3 linked regions of the Homo sapiens genome follow. The protein of the gene in region 3 purifies or fractionates together with the protein of the main gene of each other region. This does not show direct contact. Each region holds a gene or a part of one and is shown on either strand. Other genes may lie near its edges.

The links.
Region 1: the proteins of GCFC2 (region 3) and GBP1 purify together in Homo sapiens (affinity purification with mass spectrometry; one large-scale study listed by BioGRID and IntAct). This does not show direct contact.
Region 2: the proteins of GCFC2 (region 3) and PPIL1 purify together in Homo sapiens (affinity purification with mass spectrometry; one large-scale study listed by BioGRID and IntAct). This does not show direct contact.

Annotation. Positions count from the first base shown.
Region 1 is NC_000001.11:89,055,140-89,058,794, forward strand, and holds part of GBP1 (guanylate-binding protein 1), read right to left. Parts: intron 3,096-3,655; coding exon 2,853-3,095; intron 1,996-2,852; coding exon 1,715-1,995; intron 1,090-1,714; coding exon 877-1,089; intron 77-876; coding exon 1-76.
Region 2 is NC_000006.12:36,864,716-36,868,370, forward strand, and holds part of PPIL1 (peptidyl-prolyl cis-trans isomerase-like 1), read right to left. Parts: intron 1-3,655. UniProt on the Homo sapiens protein: Involved in pre-mRNA splicing as component of the spliceosome. PPIases accelerate the folding of proteins. Catalyzes the cis-trans isomerization of proline imidic peptide bonds in oligopeptides. Catalyzes prolyl peptide bond isomerization in CDC40/PRP17.
Region 3 is NC_000002.12:75,686,812-75,690,466, forward strand, and holds part of GCFC2 (intron Large complex component GCFC2), read right to left. Parts: intron 3,271-3,655; coding exon 3,158-3,270; intron 2,415-3,157; coding exon 2,215-2,414; intron 1,167-2,214; coding exon 1,016-1,166; intron 1-1,015.

The sequences.
Region 1 (3,655 bases), on a different chromosome or scaffold from region 3:
GAGTCTGGTCTGTCTGGAGAATTGCATCAGTCATAGACTCCTTGGATTTCAAGTATGTCTGCAGAATCTCTTCAGCCTTAGGACCCAGAGAACACAGAGTGAGAAGTAGGAAATGGCTGTAAGCAGGTGTTCCTGTTTGTCTTCCTGCCATCCTTTCTCCTCTGGGAATTCTTTCTCTTGGCCCTATTGTCCTTGGTGGTCAAATTCCCTGTCGGAGCGACAGACACATGCTCCTGGCAAGCCGATCAGAACATCCTACTTAGCAGTCATTTTTAGTAGGCTAATATAGATACTGGGAAAAGGAGAGTCTCTGTCCTGTTTAGATTAAGGGCTCTAAGTTTGGAACTGTTAATGCTGTGGTCCCATATGGGCTGAGCCTGCTGGGGAATGAAGCCATCATTGAGAAAGCAAATATCAGAGTGACTCAGATAGAGGGATGGTGGGAGGGAGAAAACTGTGGGGATGGGGGAACACTGGACAGAGAGCCAGTTCATGATGTTACTTGAAACCTTAGACCCACCTGACCTGTAAAGCCAGTTTGCAGCCTAAATCAATGAATTACATTTTTGTTTAAGCAGCCATCATTGGGTTCCTGTCTCTTGCAACAGGAAAAGCCCAGCTGTAATGATGACAATAATAACTTTGTGCTTCATCTGCTAATTGAATTTATAACTTAATAGTTAATTGACTGCACTCTCTTTGATGAGCACCTAGGACATATCTGGTATAACAGCCTGTTTGCATATGTTATTGAATAAAAGCATGAATGTTATGCAAACAAAAAAGCACATCTGTATGCAGTGAAGCTTGGTCACCTTGGTGTTTGTAGGAGGCAGGTCAGCAGCTTTCCATAATTGACAGATAAATCTTGGTTACCTGTATCCCCTTCCTCGGTTCCTCATAGTACTTTTTCTTCAGGTCTTGTAGCTTCTGAACAAAGAGACGATAGCCCCCTGGTTTCGAATAAATTCCCGCCTTCACTTCTTCTTCTAGAGGACTGAAAATGACCTGAAGTAAAGCTGAGCAACGATCTGATGATGCTTCCTGATTCTGTTTACAAAAGTCATCCCGCTTTTTTTCTAGCTGGGCCTTTAATGTAAAAATAGGAAGTAAAAAGAGTAACAGGGAAAGGATGTTAGCTTGACCTCAGAATTTTGGGAACGATTTCTGAAAATAGAAGTCAATGATGCTGGAGAAACTGACAGCCTCCTCACCAGGACCACACTCTTCCTTCTGACCCCACTTTCTGCTGAAGTCGCTTTCTTTTTGGAGGTGAGGTTCAGGGCTGAGATTGATAGCTTTATGTCAACTGTTAGAGGAAAACTCTGTTTTTGCATATTGGACTAATGATTTCATATGGAATAAATGTGGCTGAACGGAAGCCTGCTCAAGATAAGTAGGATGAAAATTTTCTTTGTGTTTGGCTAGAATATCAAATCAGTCTGAGAAGAGTGGGCAGGTAATTTTATTAGAAGCTCTGGTTGTCAGTTGTATGCATAAGTAAAGGGAAAATTATTCAGGAAAAAATGTTTTAGAACTTTGGGTCTGTAATAATACAGTTGGTCCTTCTGACTGATGTGATCACAAATCTGTTGTTTTCACCATTATGGAAGCTAGGAGGAATTACTTCCGTCAAAATAAATAATAGTTTTCTTTCCTTGTGGTACTTTAGCTTCTATGACCCTAAACCGTATACATTTGAGACAAAAATTACCGCTAACTCCTTTTGAAATAGATGGTCCACATCTTTGAAGGAACTCCTGATGAAGACTTCAATGGCCTCTCTCTCACTGTCCCTGTGCAGGTCCAGCAGCTCCTGGAGGGTTTCTGTGGGCAGCTGCACCTTCTGGCCCATCTGCTGTTCATAGTGGGCAATAGCCTTTTGCACTGCAGCTGAGTTCTCTATCTGGGCCAAGGCCAGGACTGCGTTCTCCATGCACGGCAGATCCCCACTGCTGATGGCATTGACGTAGGTCAGCACCAGGCTCTCTAGACCTGCATATGAAGAACAAATGATAATGTTTCTGGTGGTAAAGAAAGTCTCTATTCCATGTAATTCTGAGCATGTCAAATACCACCTATTTTCCTCACAGCATCAATGTCCTCAGCATCACTTGGAAGCTTGCTGGAAATAGACTCTCAGACCCTGTCCGAGATCTATTGAATTAGACTTTTGTGTTTGGTAAGATCCTCAGAAGATATGTATGCATACCAACATTTGAGAGTTCTTGTACTAGATTACATAGACTTGTGTTAATTGAATGTTTGCATCCATTTTAACCCCAACCAACATTAGGACAGGAACCATATCTATTTCATTTATATCTGTATCTTCAGTCTATTCATAGTAAGCATTTGATCAATATGTATGAAACAAATGACACTATTCCAATAAAAAAGAGTCATCCATTTAGTTTATTTTATTGCAGTATTGTTCAAAAGCGCTTTCTGTAATGCTGGGAATGTTGTATATGTGCTTTTCAGTGTGCTAGTCACTAAGTACGTGTAAATATTAGTCCTTGAAATACAGGCATGTGAATTGACTTTTAAATTTTCCCTATTTAAATTATTTACATTTATGTTTACATAGACACACTTGTCTAGGGGCTACTCTATTGCATAGTGCAGGTCCAGTTCACTAGGGCAATTTCAAGCAATAGAACTTTTTTCCTTTGGCCTTTTCCTAGACTGGAAATGTGACTAACAATATATGTTAGAAACATTGGTGCCATCTAGAATTTAACACAAATATAGCAGTAGATTGGGATTTTTCAATGCTGAAACTAGGTGGAAGTTATTCTATGCTCCTCTAGTCTTAAACAATGAGCAGAAGTACTAGGAAGGGGACTTACGAGGCCCGTTGACCTGGATGCCTCCTGAAAGAGTTTTAGTTTTGGAATTACTAAAGATGTAGGAACAGAAGTCTGCTACTTGTTGCACAAATTCGGGGTCCAGCTCTTCATCTTGTAGTTTCTCGAGCTGGGCAAGCTTCCTGCGGTGAACGGGCCGATCAAAGACAAAGCATTTTTTCTTTGGGAAGAATTTCCGGATACAGAGTCTGGGCAGGTTAAAAGTTTCATCTTTTTGACTGGTACCTAGAAAAACATTTAAAAAATTATAAAATTGCCTAATATAAGTGTTTCTGTAAAGGGCCAAATAGTAAATATTTTAGGCTCTTCAGGCTGGATGGTCTCTTTTCCAAGTATTCAACTCTGTTATTGAAGCATGACAACAGCTTTAGACAATATGTAAATGAATGGGCATAGCATTATTCCAAAAAAACCTTATTTACAAAGACAGCTGGCAGGCAGGATTTGCCATGATTTGTCTTGGGCTGTAGTTTGCCAATGCTTGGACTAGCACACGGTTCATGTTTTAGTCTATGTTCTTTAAATAAATATCCATTGTACTCCATACTCTATGGCTAAGTAGAAGATCACAAACCCTAGGCAGGGAGATAAAATTAACCTAATCACAGCATACACAAAGGTGAAAGAACAAGAAACTTGTTCTAGAACAATGACAAATGTAATTTAAAATAACATCTATTAATTTGGATATTCAGCAAGTATTAATTTCTAGGAATAGCCAGCTGAAGACATAGAAAACTGCAAATGCTGGAAAACTAGCAATAGTAAACTGAAAAATGATAATT
Region 2 (3,655 bases), on a different chromosome or scaffold from region 3:
CAGCACCCCCTCCAACAAAGAATCATCCAGCTCTAAATGTCAATAGTGCCTAGGTTGAGAAATCCTGTTCCATCCCAGCAGTACATTCTTTTTTCCATATCATCTGCCATCCCTGAGAGTATATTATGTACTTTTTCATTCTCCGTCTCTCACCAGAATGAGAGCACCGCGAGGGCTTTCTTATTCACTGTTGTATCTCCAGCTTTTAGAAGAGTGCCTGGCCTACAGAAGGAGTCTAATAGGTATTTGTTAAATGAATTAACAATAAAAAAAAAAAACCAGTCACATTTGTTTGAGCTCCCACTTTGTGTCAAGCCCATGCTAACCACTGTACCAACATCAGCTCATTTACTACTCACAACCAGCCTAGGAGGTGCACGTAACCACACTCCCGACAGGTGAGCTGGCTCAGCAGGGTAAGGCAACTCCTCTACATTTAGTAAGTATTCATGTGAAGCACAAGGCAAGCCCAAGCTCCACAGTCCTGCTCTACCCTGAACCAAACTGTCTTGCCATAGTCCACAGCTGGATGAAATTTCCTCAGATTTGTCTTATCCCAGACTCAAGAGTCCCAAATGGTCCCTGAGTCATGCTCAATCAAATCTGAACTCCTCTGTCTAGGAGTCTCCATTAACTGGCCCCAAACTGCTCCTTACTGTCCCCTAAACAGGCAGTTCCGAGATCTGTAAATTTTACAGGGGCCTTTGAATCACATTTGATGCATTTGTTCTGGGTGTGGAGAGGTGGCTGGGTGATGTCACAAGAGCCAGTCTAGAGTGGAAGATGTGACACCGGGGGTGGCGGGCTCCCTCCCTACCCCTGCATGCCTCTGTCACTCCTGCCCTGTACCCACCCTTCTTCCTAAATTCAAAATGCCCTTCCCTCTACTTCCCAAGACCCATCTCGCATATGCCTCCTTCCCATCCTAATCTCATTCCATTGTGCTTTTTCCCTTATTGTGAATTACTCCAACCTATATTATATACATAATCCACACCGTACTATCATACATTTGCATATTTATATTATCCCATTCTAGTTGTTTCTTATAATGAATAGTTTGTTTCCTGGCAGGGCAGGGAACTGCAAGGAAAAAGAAAATGCCTTGGCTTTTAATGCTTAAGTGCTTCTCCCAGGCCTTAGAATAGCACAGGATACCCAGCAGACTCTTGGCAAATACTCATCAAATGAATAAAATTAACAGAGCTTGCTGTTCAACACGTTACATTTCAGGTGTTCCTGGGGCTACCAAGAGGAGAGATGAAATCAAAGTGAGAGTGACGCACAGGATAATCAGCATATAATTAATCACAGCAGCTGGTGAGCACTGTGAGGCCAAGTGCAGAGCAGGAAGAGCTAAAGGAAGAACTTGACAGGATGTTATGTCTTACAGAGAGGACAGAAAGGTTAGTAGAAACAAATAAAAGACACTCAGAGGGCTAAGGAAAGAGCCTCTATAGTTATTATAATATGGGAAAGTTGAAGGTAGAAAAATGGTTTAAAATGAAATGAAGCAGGAAGTCAAAGGGTATTTGAATTGACAAGGCATCTGGCAAAGATGTATTACAAGAAAGCATGTGGAAAGAATGGTTCCACAGTAGTCAGACTGAGGGACAGCTGGGAATGGAAGTGGTACATCAACTTGCTGAAGAGCCCAGGATGTCATTTGCTGCCCATCTGAGATGTTTAACAAAAAACGTGTCACCTAATCAGCTAGAAAATATGAACTAGTGACCCAGGAGAGCCTAACTCCTGCTTGCCTTCCACCATAGACCTGCCAGTGGGCTGCTCAGTCATTCATTATACTTGAGGCTGGGTGCAGTTATTTGAAGATCTTTTGAGTGATTCAATTTCATTAAAATTACACCATGGAAATGTGACATTATGAAGGATCATGAACCAACTACAGAAATACAGAAAAGCTGTGGCATGAGCAACTCACACCTGAGTCACTTCCAATACTTGTACCCTAATCATGGACTCTCAGTTCACTGGTATTAAGAATTAAAATTTATTTCATAACAACATGAGGGGGAGAGAGGAAGAAGACAGGAAAGAAGTACATCGAAGTACCGACGGAACCCTTTCAGACAAAGAAAGTAGAATGAAGCAGGACTAGACTCTGCCTCCCTGTTGTGCCGAACCTCTATTGACTCCAATGGGGATGGCATCAGGTTCAATAGACCGAAGAGACCTAATGCCAGCAAATGAGACATGGGGTTTTATTGGGGACTTACATACAGGGCAGAGAGTCCAATGGTGGCGGAGAACCACAATGGCTTGCAAAAAGCATGCAGTTTATATAGCATTTCCACTTAGCACCTTCTCCCTAACAATCTCCACCTGGCAATCTTCATTCAACTCAAAACTCGGGGCCTCAACCCGTGTGCGGCCCATGTTTCACAGGACGAGCCAGGGGCTCAGATGTCCCTTTATAGACAAGGAAGGAACCTCCAGGTTGGCTACTCCTGGATTCCCTAGCTCAGAACACACATTCAGATGCGTCTGCCATACAGGGTCATTCTAAGGGTATGTTTCAGTTATTGCTATCAGGCACGTTTACCACATGCTCCCAACACCCAATAAAGTGAACATACAAAAATTAAAAATTAAAAAGTCAAAAGTTCACCAGCATCAACCAAATAAGAAAAGGGAACCAAACATGCTAAAATTGTAAAAAGAGTCAGCCAAGAGGAAAAAATAGAAAATTCTTCCATCTGTATTCCCTGAAACCAGTAACCAGGAAAGAAATGTCATGCTGAGATTCTCACAAATACCCTCCGATTCTGAACAGCCAACAGGGGAGTGGGTGAGCAGCTCTGAAAACAAAGCCCTTGAGGGCAGAAGCCCACACATATCACAGGGGCTCGGGAGTGGCAGGGCAGGCACGCAGGGCTGGCCACCTTCCAGGGTGCTGGGCCATACTTGGGGACTACCCAGAGCCTGGAGTGGTGACAGAGGGACACCACTGGCTGGTGGAGGGGGCTCTGGGACAAGACTTTAAGGGAGTCTGGGAAGATAGAACAGAGGCTAGCCCTCCCACAAGGGGCTCGCTCAGCATGAGCTGAGCTCCAGTTCTCTCCCACACCTCTTCAGGCTAGAATAGAATAGAGAGAAAGCAACCTAACATTTGAAGTGGGGAAGACAACCAGTTCCACATAAGTGGGGAGAATGACAAGGAGACTCCACTTACACTGTATCTGAGCAAGTAAAAGGTGGGGATAATGTAGGTGTTGACATCAAGCATGGATAAGATGAAAACAAATGGCATGGAAACTAGGCAAACATACCACAACCAACAGAAGGACAGAAAGGAGGAGGGGAGAAAGGAAAAGAAAACCCAGGAACTCAGCCTGGGAGAAAGTGGCTTCTCCATGGCTATCTCAAGCTATGGATGATTCAAGAGAAGTAAAAATATAATATAACAAAAGCTCAAAGACAAGATAATACACCACAGAATAAGATGAAAAGATTGCAGAGTGAAGGAAACAAATTTAGATTCAAATGGCATCAGTAATGAGCTAGTAGATAAATTAGAGCAGTAAAGAACAGAATAAAAATGACTGAAAATTGAGTAAGGCACAGAGTAAAGGTCTGAGATTATTTTAGTGAATGCAGGGAAAAAAGAAAAAAAAATCCTATCACACAATCAAAA
Region 3 (3,655 bases):
CATAGTGAAACGGATCCTTATCAAGTACACAGGTAAAACAAAAGACTTCATGCTAAGGTCTGAAGCACAAGCATTAATGTTAAGTGCTCATAGCTGCTAGTGGCAAATGTGAGTGAAATGAAGCAATTTTTTTTTTTTTTGAGACGGAGTTTCACTCTTGTCACCCAGGCTGGAGTGCAATGGCACGATCTCGGCTCACCGCAACCTTCGCCTCCCAGGTTTAAGCAATTCTCCTGCCTCAGCCTCCTGAGTAGCTGGGATTACAGGTGCCTGCTACCACACCCAGCTAGTTTTTTGTATTTTTAGTAGAGACGAGGTTTCGCCATGGTGGCCAGGCTGGTCTTGAACTCCTGACCTCAGGTGATCTACCTGCCTTGGCCTCCTAAAGTTCCAGGATTACAGGCATGAACCACCACTCCCAGATGAAGCAATGGTTTTAAAGAAAAGGATAAGAAACACAATTAGAGAAGTTAAGGGGAAAAAAGGACACATGTAGTATGGATGGAAGTGTGCTAAAAAATGACTGAAGTGCCATAAAAGCAGCGGGAATGCCACAAACACTAAACTGACTTTAAATACTAAGTGACTGAAGTAAATAGAACAGAGAAGGTAAGTGACCTGAATCCAGAGATACTGTAGCACTTGGAAGTCAAAGAGGTGACAAGCAGACAGCAAAGACCAGAGAGGTGGGCAGGAAACTAAGAGTGTGGTATTTTGGTAGCCAAGTAAAGACAGTGTTTCTAGGAAGAAAGAAGGGTCAACTGTTGGAACTGCTGATGATACGTCAGATGAGGATTAGTGATCAATCTGAGTATTAGCAGTTTGGTAGCCAACCACCTGTACAAACACAAATTTTTTAACCACCTTACATTTGACAGCTGTTGATTTTTACTACATATAACATTTCCTTGAGATTAAAAACTTATGAAAAAACTTTGTGAATATAACAGAAATTAACAACCTTATATACTCTGTCAGAAAATAATTTAATTTTACCAAGGTTACGAAGCAGTACCTGTAAGTCGGGGAATAATTGTTTTGTTGATGATTGCAGACAAGACTTTTTTATCTGAACTACTTTCCTTCTTTGAATCTTCCACACTGCTATCCATAAATTCTTCTACAGATTTGAACCATGGCATCTCTTTTAAACCTGTGGATTCCAACTTACAAAGAAAATTACAAAAGTTATAAAGAAATCTTTCAACATTAGTGTATTTTTAAATAGTTATTATTTTTTTCAATAATCACCAGAGCTTTTCTAAGGATCAGAAGAGATTAATTCCCTATTTTAACACTAGACCACCAAGGCTAGGCAGGATTGCAGGACAGCATGACTGAGACATGGTGTCTAAGTAACATAAGAAGAAGCTGCATTTCATGCATTCAATCACACAACAAACACTCAACAACTACCTAGTGTGTGCCGGAGCCTTTAGACCCTACCACATGGCAAGTACTCTGCTTGGAGCAAAATACAAATTTGTTAGGCACTTGAAACAGCCATGGAATTTGTTTATAAAAAAAATTCATCCACTTCAAGCAAAGTTTATTTCTGGCCCCTTCAATTCACTAAGCATAAATATGTAATTTGTATGTGATTTAGTTAAAGGTCCTATTACACAGTAGGCAGTTGCTGAGTTCATACTTCTTTTTTTTTCTTTTAGTCAGTCAAATTCAGTGAACAGAGTTTATATTCCTTAACTTAGGATCTAAATATCTGTGCAATTTCTAGCTCCTGAACTAATACTTCTCCCTTTACACCTTTATGAAACACCTTTCCCTTTCTGATTCATCCTGTTTACCCCATAAACTCTTCAAAGGCTTGCATTCCACCTTCTCAACACAACCCTAAGCAACTCTTCCCAGTATGTCATCTCCAACTTAAGAATTCTTGAAACAAGGCTTTTATATCTACTTTCTCCAAACCCAACAGTACCTTATACTTTCTGGGAGGATTTTAAATTTAATGTACAAGAAGCTAAAAAAAAATGTGTTTGCTTTACTGATGTTAATGATGCTTAGCCTAAAAATCAAGTGACAGCCAAGAAAAGAAGAATGTAGCCGAAAGCACACATTTTCTGACTATTGTTCCAAAGCTCTAAATTTCAGCTCCGACTCTAAGGGTAAGGTATTTAATGCCTAACACAATAGTAAGGGAATTTAAGCAACTAATATAATCAGGATAATTTTTCATATGTTAAGCATAAATACCTTAAGAGGATTCCAATCAATCAACTGAACTCGTATTAGGGGATTTAAAAGCTTTGGTATGCATAAACTAATGAAAGCTTCATAATAGGAGTCAGGAAACTTTTCTCGCCATTGCTGAAATTTCAACAAAATATTCTGGATGTTACAAAAATCATCTTGCACTTCTTCAAAAACTTTCTTCTGTTTCTGTAAAATGTCACCTGTAAACAAAATAAGTCTCTTTATGCATTTTAAGTTGTGAACTTTAAGTATGCTTCCTTAAAAACACGGTCATGATGGACTGTAATCAATTGAGCTAAAATTTGTCCTTTTATATTAATATAAATTTTTATTAAATCACTTTATCAACAAAGTAATAATATCAACACTAATAGAAGTTACCATATATACCCCTGCTATACGCAGAAATACATTAATCTCATTTTACCATCGTAGCTATCTTCCATACCATATAGGTATAGTCTACTTATTTACAGACAAAACAACATCAAATTTAGGGAGGTCAAAAAATTTGTCTAAGATTACACAGAAAAAAATCTCCCTTAGAACCCAAATTTATTTAAATCCAGAGCCTAGAATTTTTCAACTATATGCATCTTCTCATCATGCTAAAAAGTTTCACCAAATTCAAATGTTTTAAGTTAAAAATGACAATATAGAAAGTATGTGTGGTAAAGAAATGAAATGAAGATGTTCATTATTAATTGGAGAACGTCTAAGAGAAAAAACTATGAAGATGTAAGAATACTCACAATGTTCCTTCCTTCATTTTACTCCATTTTTTCAGAGAAAAGAGTCTTACAGAGGAAAAATGTGTTTCATTTTTCCTGAATTTACCCAACTGTTTTATATAGCTTATGTACTTATTAAGGGCAATCCCAGCAAAGTGTTTCTCACCATTTCAAAACTCAAACCATGATATATTAGAAACTTGGTAACTGACCTTGGCTTTTTTGGAAGTCAATCATCTCTGCTGAAGGCAGTTCATCATCACTAGATGTTCCTTCCTGATGGTTACAATTCCCAGAAAGCACCCTTGCTTGTCTTCTTTTTGTCCTATATTTTGCAACAAACCAAAAATAAACAAAAAGTAAGTAGTTCTTGCTGAAAATAAATGCCTAAATTTTTTTTAACCTCTTGCTGAAAATAAGTAATTTTATCATTTATTTTAAATGGCCAGAAATATACTATCATATCAGCGCACAATTTTATTAATATTTTTGACATTTTTAGTTTCATTAGTTTGAGTTGGTGGTTCTGCATTTTTTGTTTTGTTTTGTTTTCTCTTATAAGACATTCCCATTTAGGACATTCCCATGGGCTAACCAGATTCCGAAGAGGGGGTAATTATAATTAGGACCGGTTTCTAGTTACAAGGAATTCCCAGCCTGATAAATGTCATTTTACCCATTCCTTTTAACTGATCCAAATACACCAATGT